Linked DNA regions of Homo sapiens. Changing the gene in region 2 together with the main gene of any one other region gives a genetic interaction. Each region holds a gene or a part of one and is shown on either strand. Other genes may lie near its edges.

Region 1 (3,013 bases), on a different chromosome or scaffold from region 2:
CCAAGGCAGGCGGATCGCCTGTGGTCGGCAGTTTGAGACCAGCCTGGCCAACATGGCGAAACTGTCTACCAAAAATACAAAAATTAGCCAGGCATTGTGGTGGGCACCTGTAATCCCAGCTATTCAGGAGGCTGAGGCAGAATAGCTTGAACTCAGGAGGCAGAGGTTGCAGTGAGCAGTGAGCCAAGATCACGCCACGGCACTCCAGCCTGGGTGACAGAACAAGACTCAGTCTCAAAAAAAAAAAAAAAAAAAAAAAAAAAAGCACAAGCACAATTCTAAACATTCAAAGAAAAAAAGTGTGTTATCTTTCGTGGCAGCATTGGTATCTGATGCATTTGTAAATGACAATTTCTTTAGATTGCCATTGAAGTTTCTTAAATAGCAGTAATAGTTTCTTCATTAAGACATATCCTATTTCATGCCAAACTTCATATGTATTCTTACATTGCAAAGTCCAAGGATAGACACAAAGTAGAAAGATACTACTCAAAGAATTTTTAAGGATGCATAAAATGATCCTCAATTCTAGAAAACGTTATTACTAATTTCTTAATGTAGCATTTATTTGGAGTTGCTTAATGTTTTTCAATTACATGACACACTGTTTGTTTACACAATTTTAAACTTTGAGGTAATTTGTGCCAAAGGATCTAGAGTAATTCTCAACAGAGGTAGGAATGAAGCAATTTTGCCCACCAATGGACATTTGGTAATGTCTCCATTCTTCTCATAGCCTGTGGGAATTGGAGGGAAAGAGTGCTTTTTGTCTGTAGTGGCAGAGCCCAAGTTAGCTACTAAACAAGCTAAAGCGCATGGGATGGTCTGCTAAACCAAACTGTCTTTCAGAAATAGTCAACAGTGGCAAGGTTGAGAAACCCTGTTCTTAGAGGTTCAAATTATACCTGACACATAGGAGGTAAAAGCATGGAGTCTGGTAACTGAAAACACTCTACACACTCTAAATTCAAAACTACATGGGTGTAAATATCCACCATTTGACTAACAGAATGAATTCAAGTAATTCAACTCGTTTAACAATTTCAAAATTTTTGAGATAATCCACGTAATTCAAATACTTAGTTCAGTTCCTGACATTTAAAATGTGCTTCTACTACCCTGTAAACATTTAATTGTATACTTACGTATGAAAATCCAAAATTAATGTCACTGAATTCCTCAAGTTTCTATGATGTGATGACTTACACACACCTATGTGAAAACTTGCTATATTCCCCATCTTAAAATTATGAATATACTTCCTGGCCTTTGAAAACCTGCACCATGGCTAAGCGCAATGGCTCACGCCTGTAATCCCAGCACCCTGGGAGGCTGAGGAGAATGGATCGCTTGAGCTCAAGAGTTTGAGACCAGCCTGGGCAACATGGCAAAACCCTGTCTCTAAAAAAAATTACAAAAATTAACTGGGCATGGTGGCACATACCTGTAGTCCCGGCTACTTAGGGGCTGAGGCAGGAGGATCACTTAAGCCCGGGAGGTAGAGGCTGCAGTGATCCATGTTTGTACCACTGCACTCCAGCCTGGGTGACAGAGACTATCTCAAAAAAAAAAAAAAGAAAAAAGAAAAGAAAACCTGCACCCTGCACCAAGACTCAGCAGCCAAAATTCTCAAGATCTCTTGACTACTAGCACCATGGTTAGCACTGATAAACTCAGATTTCAACTTCAATCCTAGGACCAAAGCAACTTATAACCTTGAAAATCACAACAAAGAGATGCCAAGTAAAAACCATTGTTAAAAACTGCACACACTTCAACAGCCAGTAAGAGAAACTCAAAGGTTTCCATTTTGCCAGTGTCAGATGCTGGAGTATCCTTCCCAATTTACTTTTGTATAATTTCCAGTTCCAGTTGTTATGTATGCTCTAGTGAAGTTACCAACAGTCTATACACAAAATGGAAGTGTTTTACTAAAGCAGCTTAAAGTCGTATTTTCAAACTACAGAAATTCAAGAAATTCTTTAAATTCTAATAGTTAATTTCCTATACTCTAAAGTTCAGAGCATACTTTCAGCATAAAAAAGTGACACATATCAAGTTTCAGTTATTTATTGATTTAATCATTGTAATCTCCAATAGAGATTACAATAGAGATCTCCAACATGATTTCATGCATTTAGAGGAGAAATATTTCCTGGTTAAGTGGAAAATTGTGCGGATGTGGCTTCTGGAAGACCTTCATTCTAAAGCAGCGTTATAGTGAAACATTTCATTTAGAAATCTGGACGTTCCTTCTTCAGCTTGCTGTAATCCACATTCACTGAGTAGAACTTGGAACAGAAAAAAAGATATTTTAAGTAATCTCAAATACACAGAGACGGTACAAAGGTTTTAGAATTCTTTGTATTTGGTTTTCTACAGTAACAATTACAGATATGAATTTTTAAAAGAATATTTAACAACATAAAATCATTCACAGAAAAATACTGTACCTAAAATTCCAGCCTTCAATGATAGTTTTGGCAAGGTAAAAATATTCAATTTATTTCAGAAGAGCAGTATTATAGTACAGTCTACTACTTGGAACCTATAAGGAAAATTCTTTTATTTCAAAGTGAATAATTAAGAATTCCTTCTGATACATACTTCCAATTCGGTAAGTTTTTGCCTTAACTCTACTAAGTACGTGGAAGAATCGCCAACAGAATAGAGGATTAACAAGAATTACCTTCCCTACTTGCTGAATGAACTGCTGTAATTTAGAGGGAGAGATCCTGCAACAAAAAGAGGCTAGTAATATAAGGTACTGCTTTGTTTTGTGGTTTACATAACTTCTAAGATATTTTCTCTCTCTCACTAATTTCCTAATCCAGACTATATTCAATATCAAACTGACACTTCAACTCTGGTAATGGCTTTTAAATAATACGGTATTTTTGCTGTTTACATTTCCAACATTTCTTTATAATCAATTAATATTAATTTTTAGAAATAAATCTTACTGTGATTGCTTTAAAAAAAAAAAAAAAAAACTCCCTCTCTCAGTAACTTA
Region 2 (3,657 bases):
AAAAAAAAAAAAACGCCAAGATTCTGTAAGTCCTTTCTCAACTCTCTCAAAGCCAGCACTCTCCCGGGCAGCAGAAGAAATCCTTGCTTTTGTGAATATTACTGAAGTTATTATTGAAAATGCTCGAGCGAGGATTCTTGACGGTTGTCTTTGAGCAGAACAATATTCAGAAGGGAAGCTGTACTTTTTTTTTTTTTTTAAGAATGCTTAGTCCCCAGATCTTAAGAATACTTTACCAAAGTGTGAGGTCTAATAAGACTTAATGCTTACGACATGTTTTCTTTGGAAAATGTTTCAGCATATTTGGCATTAGTCAGGAGTTCAGATATGTAATATTCCACCACCCTTTTTCCTGGAACCAGTTTGAAAAACAAACTATTTATGGTATTAAAGATGGAAAATACTTTTCTCTTCCTGGCAATGTGGTGAAGTTGAACATTTTGCAACATTGGAGAAAGAAGTGTTCTTTCTGGGGCTGTCTAGCGGAATGCATGGATATGAGATAATAACATATTTTACTCCTGAGTAGTATTTGGATCAGGTTTTTTTTGGCAAATGCAAATTGCTTTTTGTGAAGTGCAAAACTGTGCCTTGGTGTTTATAAATATAAACTCTCTTCTAATCAGCCTGCATTTAATATCTGCCTAGTACACACGAGTTGAAGTTTGATAATGAACAAAGTTGTGAAGTGACCAGTGAAACCTTTCAACAAGCTTGCTTTTACCCTTCCTACTTAAAGAGCCAGGAGATCTAATTAGTCAACTGTGCAGACTGGCTGATGTTAGAATTTGATCATGTGGCTACTGCACAGTCATAGACAATTTCTGATTTCTGCAGTATAGCTCCCAAATGCAAACCCTGGTTACCCCTGTTTGATTGCTCTCTCTAAGCATTGGTATTCAGAGCATTCTATTGTAACCATGTAATACACATCCAGGGTTAATCCAGCATATACAGAATAGACTGTTTTTGAGTTGCAAGGTACAGAGAGAGAATACATAGTGAATGCGAATAACAAATCAGAATTACTTTTAGAACTTGGTCCTTTTTGAAAAATCCTTCTAAGTCTGCTTGGTTTTACCTTTGTAAGTTAACATATAGTCATCACATGCACATATACGCACACACACGGTCTCTTTCCCTTTCTAATAAACATATTGAAAGGTGAAGGGTTCGATCGCTGACATCAAGGTTTTCTCTTGCTCCAGTGCCCTGCCCCGAGGGTGCAGAACTCTCAGAGAGCCCTGTGTTGGTCCCACCAGGGCTGTTTCATGCCTTCTAATCAGCCAGAGTGCTCGAACATTATGCCCTGCTGCTCCCTGATCTAACTGGTAGTTGGTAGAGCTTGAGGAACAAGAGCTCCGAGCCAGGAAGCTCTGGGGTTTCTACCTGAGTGGCAGCACCCAGGCCACCAGGCTTACAGATGTTCCATCCCCCCAGGCTGCCTAGGCGTGCAGTCACATAGAACCTGCAGAGCCACCTCTGCACAACCCCTGTGGGCTACACCAGCAGTGGGCACTCCGCCCAATCCTTGCTTTATTGGCAGGGAGGAGGGGGTACAGGAGAGAAGATAGGCATCCTCTATGGACAGTTAATAATACCCATTGCATTTCTTTTTCTTTTTTATTTGATTGTGGTAAGAACACTTAGCATGAACTCTACCCTCTCAACACATTTTTAAGTATACAATACACTATTGTTGACTATAGGTACAATGTTGTGCATTAATTTTTTAAGTTTGTGATATATTTAGTAGCAAAGTCCTTCTGGAAAGTCCTCTGGCTCTGCTGCAGGGAAAGCTTGAGAACGGGAGCTCAGTTTCACCTGTTTGCTGAGAGCAAAAGGAAGCTGGCCCGGAAGTGGCTTGCAGGAAGGAGTTGAGCAGGGTTAGGGTGGGGAGACTGGGCAGTTTCTCTGGTTTTTGTAAGCTAGTTCTCTAATTACTTACCCTGAAATGTGTTCCGGAAACACTGACCTCCATTCTCTTATTCACATGGCAGACAGTGTACAAGCTGTTTCAAGCGAAATACTGATAATCAGGATATTAACTACTATATGTCTGCACCAGCCATGAATACAAATCACTGGTCACCAGTGTTTGCTCTGTTCCTTTTTAAAAAAATGTTTAATTAAATTAGGTAACTAATTAATTTGTAAAGATGGGGGGTCTCCATCTTGTCCAGACTAGTCTCAAACTCCTGGGCTCAAGCAATCTTCCTGCCTCGGCCTTCCAAAGTGCTGAGATTCAGTGGCTCACGCCTGTAATCCCCACACTTTGGGAGGCCGAGGCAGGTGGATCACGAGGTCAGGAGTTCGAGACCAGCCTGGCCAACATGGTGAAACCCCATCTCTACTAAAAATACAAAAATTAGCCAGGCGTGGTAGCACATGCCTGTAATCCCAGCTAGTTGGGAGGCCGAAGCAGGAGAATAGCTTGAACCCGGGAGGCAGAGGTTGCAGTGAACCGAGATCGCACCATTGCATTCCAGCCTGGGTGACAGAGGGAGACCCCATCTCGAAAAAAAAAAAAAGCCAAAGTGCTGAGATTATAGACATGAGCCACCATGCCCCACCTCTCTTTGTTTCTTTCTTAAGTTTAGAAATAAATGCTCGTTAGAGAAACTATTTATAAAACCAGCCCTGTTTATTCAGCATGGACTCATGAGACCAAATATAACTTATACAATGTTAATATGGCTGCATTTAATATTTAGTCACTGGGCTACATAGTAGGTAAAAATAACAGATAGTTTGTAAAAATGACTCTTTAGAATCACTTCTACAATATTACACTTTATTTTTTAAGTTTTTCCCTTTCAAGAAATTTGTGTTAATACCCTATAGACTTCTATCACCTTTTATCATTGCAGATATTTAGAAGGTTAGCAGTGTAATGACAAACAGATAAAGAAGTCTGTTTGTAGTTCATTTAAATATAAAAGGAATTGGCGTTTTAGTTGAAAACTTAGCTACACCTGATCAGTGTACTGCAGAACTTTGATGAGTGGGAGTCCCTGATAGATTCCTGGTTCTAGGCTCTTTGCCACCAGATCAACCAGAAAAAGGTGGTGTTTTGTTTTGTTTTGTTTTGTTTTTTGAGACTGAGTCTCGCTCTGTCTCCCAGGCTGGAGTGCAGTGGTGCGATCTCGGCTCACAGCAGCCTCCGCCTTCCGAGCTCAAGCGATTCTCCTTGCCTCAGCCTCCCAAGTAGATGGGATTACAGGTGCCCATCACCATGCCCAGCTGATTTTTGTATTTTTAGTAGAGACCAGGCTGGTTTTGAACTCCTGATCCGCCCACCTCAGCTGGGATTATAGGTGTGAGCCACCGCGCCCGGCCAGGTGTTCTTCATCAGACTGCAGGGACACCTCCAGCAATTGCTGCATGGTTCCTGGGGAATGCCTGCATTATTCTCCTAGTTTAAGGCAAATGAGCCAATTTCCAGAACTGGATTAGGGAAATGGAAACCCACACAAAGGAGGGGAATGAAGCTGAATGTTTCCCACTTCTTTTTCAGATTTACATGAGCCCAGAGGTCATCCTGTGCAGGGGCCATTCAACCAAAGCAGACATCTACAGCCTGGGGGCCACGCTCATCCACATGCAGACGGGCACCCCACCCTGGGTGAAGCGCTACCCTCGCTCAGCCTATCCCTC

The links. A genetic interaction does not mean that the proteins touch.
Region 1: changes in MAP3K8 (region 2) and COXFA4 together harm fitness less than expected from each alone (positive genetic interaction), as found in Homo sapiens cells (one large-scale study listed by BioGRID).

The regions. Positions count from the first base shown.
Region 1 is NC_000007.14:10,931,402-10,934,414, forward strand, and holds the end of COXFA4 (cytochrome c oxidase subunit NDUFA4), read right to left. Parts: intron 2,292-3,013; coding exon 2,235-2,291; 3' UTR 542-2,234; downstream 1-541. UniProt on the Homo sapiens protein: Component of the cytochrome c oxidase, the last enzyme in the mitochondrial electron transport chain which drives oxidative phosphorylation.
Region 2 is NC_000010.11:30,454,567-30,458,223, forward strand, and holds part of MAP3K8 (mitogen-activated protein kinase kinase kinase 8), read left to right. Parts: intron 1-3,517; coding exon 3,518-3,657.